3 separate regions of the Homo sapiens genome follow, and all the other regions are linked to region 2. Evidence: fine-mapped expression QTL. A gene starts in region 2. Each other region holds a variant in brackets. All regions are shown on one strand. Distances are between the middles of the regions. Region 1 overlaps TRANK1 (tetratricopeptide repeat and ankyrin repeat containing 1). Region 2 holds the start of TRANK1 (tetratricopeptide repeat and ankyrin repeat containing 1). Region 3 overlaps TRANK1 (tetratricopeptide repeat and ankyrin repeat containing 1).

Region 1 (2,758 bases), 86 kb before region 2:
TCTCAACCAATGGTGATTTACTCCCCAAGGGACATTTGGCAATGTATAGAGACATTTTTTATTGTCACAGCTAGGGGAGTGTCACTGGCAGCTAGCAGGTGGAAGCCAGGGATGCTGCTAAATATCCTACAACGCACAGAACAGTGCCTTACAACAAAGAACTACCCAGCCCAAATGTCATGGTAGTTCCTGAAATGACCATACAAGATTCTAGCAAGATCCTTCATACGCAGACCCTTGAAAATGATATAAATAAATGGAAAGTATTTTTCAGCTACCAACAGCCAACTCTGGAACTTTAGAATCCTCCATCAACCCTCCCTGACCACTCACCATGGTGGTCACTTCTTCCCATTATGCTACAAGTGAGGGGCCAGGTGACATGGGCAGGCCTGGCCAAGAAATGGGCCTTTTTCAGATCACTGGTTTACACAAAAGGAAAGACCAGAAAACATAGCATCAGTTCTAATATCCAGCTTCCTCCTCAAGGAGACGGCTGCTTAAAAAACAAGGGCTTACCTTTAATCTCTAGAAAGATGTGGAGTGCTGCATGCAAAGGAGTATCACCTTCCGTGAGAGAAATAGCACGGGGGTCTGCGCCCTTGGTCAAGAGAAGGAAAGCCAACTCGAAGTCCTCATGTTTCAGGCACGTGACAACTGGCCTCTCCTGGCTCTCCTGAAGACCATCAGGCAAGGCTGGGAGAGGAGAGAAGGGAAGCGCAATGTGAGCAGGCACAGCCTGGCTCGCCTGACGAGAGAAGGAATGCTTCAGTTATTCAGTTGCAAGGGAAGAGCTAATGTTTACCTAACTTCCAAGATCCTCCTACCAGCACCCATTCTGGGAGGCAAAGGCTTCTGCCAGTAGCCACAAAGTGAAAGCCCAGCTCCTTCAAGCACCCTGTCTGGGGGCCTCACCCCCGCCTCCTCTCCAGCTCCCCACCACAGGAGCATAGTTCCCACCATTCCCACTGTCCTGGCATGAGGACAGGGCATGAGAACTGAAACCCTAACACCCACCTAACATCATACCTGACACAGTCAGTGTGAGGACACTTTCTACATCCCTTGCTTCTTTTTTTTTTTTTTAATACTTTAAGTTCTGGGATACATGTGCAGAACGTGCAGGTTTGTTACATAGGTATACACGTGTCATGGTGGTTTGCTGCACCCATCAACCTGTCACCTACATTAGGTATTTCTCCTAATGCTATCCCTCCGCTAACCCCCCACCTCCTGACAGGCCCTGGTGTGTGA[C/T]GTGCCCTCCCTTTGTCCATGTGTTTTCATTGTTCAACAGCCACTTATGAGTGAGAACATGCCACATCCCTTGCTTCTACTGAGCTCCTATTCTCAACTGCCATCTTCCCTGACATCTCTCCACCCGAAATCACCTTCTTTTTAGTTCAGTCCACACAGCTCCTCTGCATCAAAGTTCCCCAACCTCCACCAGAAGGCAGACCCACCCACTATAGATCTGCAGTCTCCTCCACACACTTCCAGCAGCTGCGCACTCACCTCTGTGGGCTTGGTTCCTAGCACCTGATCCTGAGATGTGCTCTATAAGTGCTTGCCGAATCAAGAAATAAAACAGGAATTCCATGACAGCTGTGGTTTCCAGGCAAAGAAAGTAACACTCCACTTAAGGAAGGAGTTTAAAAAAATAAATTATAGAAGCCACCCCACCTACCTCCTGAAAGCTGTGGATGGAGCCAACACCTAAAGGCTCTGCAAGGTGTGTGGCACTTTGAGGGCTAAGGATCAATGTGCTATTGATAACACACAATGTCTTGTGTGTTACTGTTATATCTTACATATTATGTGTTATTGATAACACACAATGTCTTGTGTGTCACTGTTATATCTTACATATTATGTGTTATTGATAACACATAATGTTTTTTCTCGTAAAAGACAATTCCTCATACAGCACGAAGCAAGCAGAGAACTACATAGCCAAGGTACTCTTCTAAAAGCCTGCACACATTAACTTATTTAATATCCAAAACAACCCTATAAAAGGGGGCCTATTTATTCCCATTTTACCAATGAGGAAATGAAGTCATAAATGGCATGTCCAATGCCACACAGTTAGTACTGGCATTAGTGGAGGTGTGAGGGACAGAGGTAGGAGGAGGTTGGTGTTTCTAAATCAGCTTGGAAATAAAAGCCAATTCAGCAAGATGTCTGCACACTCCAGACACACACCCAGCCACGCATGATAGTTCTCATTAAAGCAGCAGATGCTTCCACCCACCAATTACTTGACCGTTTCTTTAAAAACAAGCATCTTGAATCCCAATCTGTTGATCAGAAAAGAATGTCACAGGAGTAGATAAGGATCCACACAGTATATCCACTGCAAGTCAAAGTCTAGCCAGAGGTCAGGAGGAAATGACTGCTGTAGGCTAAACCAGAGCCAAGGACCCTTCACACACCTGATGTTTCCCATACAAAAGAGAACACCTGATGTTTCCCATACAAAAGAGAAAGGTAGTAACTGGAATTCACAAAAATGCAGAGATCCTCAAGGGCAACTCACTCACAGGGCAGTAACCTCCATCACTGTTTCAAAACAAGAATATACAGGGTAGGCAATGAGGGTGAACTTCATGGTGCCTCCAAAAGCAAGGGAAAGGCAGGCAGTGGCCTGGACTCCATCACGTGGAGAATGTGGACAAGTCTCCAACGCTTAGCATCCAGTCACTCTCACCTCCACTGTCTATCAGGCAGCCCAGAAGCTGTTTCTTCCGCTGGTCCCAGG
Region 2 (2,758 bases):
ACGCTCAGCACGAGGGAGCAGGAGCGCATACCTACGCTGGGAACACAAGGCTTTAATCCCAGCTATTCCTTCCCGCATAAGGACTAACTGAGCCAGCAGCAACTGGGTTGGAGCAGATAGGGGAACTAGAGACCTCAGAGCCCCATTCTCTTTCTGCTTCTTAAATTTTTTTTTCTTTTATTTTCCAAATTGCACACTTCCATAAAAATTTTCCTAGGAAGCACCAAAGCTTTCAACTGCCCAGAAACACCCCGATCTGGGAGAAAAGGTGGCTTGAGCTGCACCTCAAAGATGGGCTCTATCTCAGCCGGGTTGCAAGTGCACAGGGCTCCCCGCGGGACGGAGACAGGGAGTTGGGAGGAAACGCAACGCGCCTCCCAGGCAACAGACTCCGAGCTCCGGTTCGGAAACGCTCCGAGGCAGAAGCAAGGGCTTCTAAGGGCTCCGCTTCCCAGCCTTGGGTCCCTACTACTACCTTCCCCCTAGACTCGGTGAGCCCAGGCTGATGGACCGTGCAGTCCAGTTTGAGCCAGCCCAGCAGCCCTCAATCGGGCGGGCAGGGAAGAAGGCCTCCTACTGCCGGGAAGAGGCCAGCGCGCTCCAAGTTCCCCGCAAATTCCGCCCTTCCCGCCTGGCACGGTTCCCTTGCACCGCTGTGCTCCGCTCCCAGGTTTCTGCCCGCCAAGAATGCTTGCCCCGGGGGCGCGCTCGCTGGTCAGGAACCTGTCGGCAGCCCCCGGGAACCCCTGAGGATGCGGAGGTGGGCCCGAGAGCTGCGGCTTCGATGCCGGGGTGGGAGCTAGGCAGGCCGCGCGCCGCCGCAGTCCTGTCGCAGCGCGTGCCCTGGTCCCTCCGGACCGAAAAGGCCGAAGCCGTCCCCCGCGACCGACCCCGCGCAACTGGCTCGGGTCTGCACCTAGATGGCTGTGGGCCCCACAGGGATGGCCGGGCGGGCCCGTTCGGCCGCTACCTCAGGGTCGCCAGTCCCCGCGCGCGGCCGCCTCCCGCCAGGAAGGGTGGCGGGCCCGGAAGGCCAGAGATGCCCCAGTGCTTCCCGCGCCGCTACGCACCTAGCTGCCCGCGGGTCCCACATGGCTGCGGCCGGAGGGTCCGCACCAGGACCGCCGCCGCCTGGGGAAGCGCTTCCCTGTGGGCAGGGCGCGGCGGGCAGTGCGGAAGCCCGAAAGCTACCGGAGCCCGGGGCAGGGGCGGCGCGATGCAGAGGCGGCGTTCGGGGGCCCCCAGCTGCCTGCGGCTCGGCTACCCAGCCGCGATCAGAGGGGGCGGGGGACGCAGGAACCCCGGCGTCCGGGCGGTGTGCAGCCGCAGACCTATTCCAAGTTTCCACGTAGTTGCGAGAGCCCAAAAACTGTCACGTGCACGTCGCTGCTGAGTGGGAGGAGGTGTTTGTCATCGCGTTCAAAAGGGGCGTTTCGGTGTCTCCCGTCATGCAAGCAAATGGTATGGCTCTCGGCCGCCTTTGAATAAACGAGTGCTTCGAACCCTTTACCAGGAGGGACTAGGCGCACAACCACCTCCGACACTCCTCGGGCATGCGAGAATTCGGCTTTCCTTAGTGGGGCCCATCAATGTTGTCCGGGAGGTAAAGAAAGTGATCGGCCAACGGCCTCAGCGTGGGTTTTCTCCTTCCCTCGTTCCTCCCTCCAACAAAGGACGTACGGAGAACAAGCCCCCTAGCTCCTACAGATGAGGAGCTCAGGAGTCGGGCGAATATCAAGTACTTACTGTGTGCTTGCCCCTCCACTCTGGGGAGGCTGGGGGTCCGGGAGTGAAGGGGGCAGCGAGACCGCGGGCTGCTCCACGCTCACCGTCGTGTCCATGGAGAGTAAGTGCGCACAGGCCTGAGCAGGCAACAAAATGAGGATCTTGCCTTGTCTTTCCACCTCCCCAGTGATGATCGACAGAGTAGTGGGTCGGAGAGGACCACCTCTGGCTGCTACCTCCCCAGCGGTTCTCGGCCTAGGGAGCCGGTTTGGTCTTCACAGCTTCTCTGGGCCTGGGAGTACTTTCCTACACACCAGAGAATCCACCCAATCAGAGAGCTAAGCCCGCCGCCCTCCCCTGGGGCAAGGTTCGGCCTACACTGCATCCCGGTGGTTCGCCCATCCTTCTGGGGGACCACCACACCAGGCTGCCTGGTGGCAGGGAGGACACCACCAGAGCTTTAGTGAGGGGGACCACACATTTCAGCGAAACAGAGAGGCTTTGGTAACACGTGGACACACCTAAGGCACACAGTATACTTCTCTCCACTGGTCATTCTGCGTTGTGAACTAGTCTCAGTCTAGCTAGTGGTCTCCTTGCTTCTAGAATCTCACAGAGATTTCTGTGCATTGATCTTCCCCAAACATCAGGATGAATCACGTACAGTTCAAAAGCCATCAGTGGCACTCCATTGTCTCCTAGAGATCAGGTTAGGTACCCGGGCATTTGAGATTCTTCTTCACAATCTTGCCCCACATTTCCAATCTTAGCTTCCTCATGCAAACTCTATACTGCAGTGCTTCCCAACCTTAGTTACACAATAGAATCACCTGGGGAGCTTAAAAACAAAAACAAGGCCGGGCGGGTGGCTCACACCCGTAATCCCAGCACTTTGGAAGCCTGAGGCAGGCGGATCACCTGAGGTCGGGAGTTTGAGACCAGCCAGACCAACATGGAGAAACCCCATCTCTACTAAAAATACAAAAAAAAAAAAAAAAACCCAAAAATATGCGTATGTTTGGCTTTTACTCCC
Region 3 (2,758 bases), 92 kb before region 2:
AGATAGGTAATGTTTTTAAAGAGAAATGGCCAGCATAAACATGGTCAGGCAGGCCAGGGGAAAGATTGAAACACTTGGTCACTCAGCCATCTCTGGAACTCACCCACTGTGGGACAGGGACTATTTTTAATGCTACTTTGTGGTATAATTTAGCTTCTCAAACTTTTTTCAATTGCAAACTGTCTTTTATTTCAAAACATAAAATCCCAAGCAGCTCACCTGGTGGGCTCCAAATTCAATGGGCTGAGTTTTCCTTTTATTCCCTCGTAGCAAAATTGCCAAGTCGCTTACACTACAAGACTCCAGAACAGTTGGCTTAGGACCATCAAAGAGGCCAGAATCCCTTGGAAGGCGATCAAAAGATTCTGGGAAATAGAACTGAAGTAAATCCACCACTCCAGATGCCAGATTGAGGATTCCTGGAATGAAACAGAAAACCCAAGTTGGATAATTAACAACATGGCTGAGTTTTTTGGTTATTTGGGGTGGGGGACATGTTTTTCCTGAGAAGCAGGTTTGGCCCCTACAGTATGTATAATTGCAAGCCCGTTTTCAGTTCCCATTTGATTACCTCTGCAGCCCTGAGCTCTCTGGGTGCAGGGGATGAGAAGGCAGAGATATGTTGCTGTGCTGAGAGAGTTTTGTGGGATCTCATTCCCAACCTATATTCATATTAGAGAAAATTACCTCACAAAGAAGAGTCAAGGCAAAAATGTAATATAAACAATGAGACCTCAGGAGGCTGAGGCAGGAGAATCGCTTGAACCCAGGAAGCGGAGGTTGCAGTAAGCCAAGATCACACCTCAGCACACTCCAGCATGGGTGACAGAGCGAGACTCCATCTCAATTAAAAAAAAAAAAAAAAAAAAAAAACAATGAGAGCTGTTAGAATGCTCTCATAAGGGGCTGGTATTGACTTTGGTAAGAAAACCAGAATTGCCTTGTCCTCTCCCATTGGTGCTTACAGAACCAATATTACCATGGTAAAAACAGTGCTGCATGTGAGCTAAGGACAGCAACCAAGGCCTCCATCACCCTTTTCCCCCAGGTTTATACCCAGTTGAGAGAGGATTACACTAAGAAAAAATGTCAGAGCAGGAGAGAGGATTTTCCAAAGAGATTTATTCCTGGGTCCCATTTCTTCTCTAATATCTGAAGTGACGTTAATAGTGACATTGGCTTAATGCCTATCATACAGCAGGCACCTTCAAAAAAGTCATCCCATTTA[A/T]TCCTCACAACAACAAATCCTCACAACAATGCAGTGAGACAGATGAGACAATTGCACTTTTACAAACAGGAACTCTGAGGTCTGAGAAGCTAATAGATATCTCCCAGTGATAGGATTTGAACATAGACCTTCCTGGGTGTCTCCACTACTCTTAGAAGCCAGGTGCCCTTTTCAAACACCAGATAGAATACAATGGTCTAGGTAGAACGTCATGAAATGGGCATATGTATCCCCATTGCTATTACCAAATAGTGAAGGGAAAATGTGACTATCCAATACTGTTGTTATTAAAAGTATATAATATAAAGCAATAAGCCTAAGTGGAAACTGCTGAATCTAAGCAAATAAGCTTCTACTGTGGTTCCCTTCCCATTAGGAGTTAGCAGGGGCCAAATATATATCTACATTAACAGGAGAATCAGAAAAGGGCACAAAAGTTGCAGTAGAATCCACTTAAATGGCCTTCTAGGGAACTAGACAAGTAATTTTTGATGTAACCATACTCAAAAAACAAAAGATGGTTCAACCATAGAAAGGAATAAAGTGCTGATACATACTATACATGGATAAACCTTAAAGACATTAAACTGAGTGAAAGAAACCAGACACAAAAGGCCATGTATTATATGATTACACTCATATGAAATGTCCACAATAGGCAGATCCGTAGAAACAGAAAGATGAGTTGTCACCGTGGAGTGGGAAGAAGGACACAATGAGTAGTAACTGCTATGATTATGGGTTTTGAGGGGTTTTTAATTTCTGAAAATGTTCTAGAATTAGATGATGGTGATAGTTACACAATTTGTGAATACATTAAAAAACACTAAACTGAACATTTCAAATGGGTGCCTTTTATGCTATGTGAACCTCAATGAATGCACTAGAACTCCACATTATCAACATGCAAAATTCTCAACAACAGGCTGGGCACGAGGGCTCACGCCTGTAATCCCAGCACTTTGGGAGCCTGAGGTGGGTGGATCACCTCAGGTCAGGAGTTCAAGACCAGCCTGACGAACATAGTGAAACCCCATCTCTACTAAAAATACAAAATTAGCTGGACATGGTGGCAGGCGCCTGTAGTCCCAGCTACTTGGGAGGCTGAGGCAGGAGAATTGCTTGAACCCAGGAGGTGGAGGTTGCAGTGAGCCGAGGTCACGCCACTGCACTCCGGCCTGAGCAACAGAGCAAGACTCTATCTGAAAAAAACAAAAAAAAAAGAAAGAAAGAAATCTCAACAACATAACATTAGGCAAAAATACCCAGTTACAGAAAGATATGTCCAGCATGATCCCATTACAGTTTTTAAACATGTAAAGCAATACTCCATATTGTTCACAGATATTTGTCGGCCAAAGGAGATAAATTTGTTAGTATCTATAAACCATAAAGGAAATATTCCAGCATTGGTACCCTGTTATTTAAACTTGTGTACCTTAGTTTCTCCTTTGTAAAATGGGTCTGATGCTTACCTCGCAGTGGTGTTATGAAGATTAAGCACTATACGTAAACTGTTTAGCATTGTGC

Evidence for each region. PIP is the estimated chance that this variant, and not a neighbour inherited with it, causes the effect. A credible set is the group of variants that fine-mapping cannot tell apart.
Region 1: its variant is the best candidate, but not a certain one, in a credible set for the expression of TRANK1 in whole blood (INTERVAL, PIP 0.68).
Region 3: its variant is the best candidate, but not a certain one, in a credible set for the expression of TRANK1 in whole blood (INTERVAL, PIP 0.84).

Annotation. Positions count from the first base shown.
Region 1 is chr3:36,858,199-36,860,956 of GRCh38, forward strand. It overlaps TRANK1 (tetratricopeptide repeat and ankyrin repeat containing 1), which reads right to left. Exons shown (of 24, transcript NM_001329998.2): 11 at 2,708-2,758; 12 at 520-696. Among named protein-coding and RNA genes, the nearest start is that of LINC02033, 37 kb to the left of the region's middle. The variant C/T (reference allele first, on the strand shown) is at 1,255.
Region 2 is chr3:36,943,717-36,946,474 of GRCh38, forward strand. It overlaps TRANK1 (tetratricopeptide repeat and ankyrin repeat containing 1), which reads right to left and starts at 1,338. Exons shown (of 24, transcript NM_001329998.2): 1 at 1,071-1,338. The coding sequence starts at 1,093. RefSeq lists a silencer at 986-1,205 and an enhancer at 1,436-1,505.
Region 3 is chr3:36,851,927-36,854,684 of GRCh38, forward strand. It overlaps TRANK1 (tetratricopeptide repeat and ankyrin repeat containing 1), which reads right to left. Exons shown (of 24, transcript NM_001329998.2): 14 at 220-419. Among named protein-coding and RNA genes, the nearest start is that of LINC02033, 31 kb to the left of the region's middle. The variant A/T (reference allele first, on the strand shown) is at 1,229.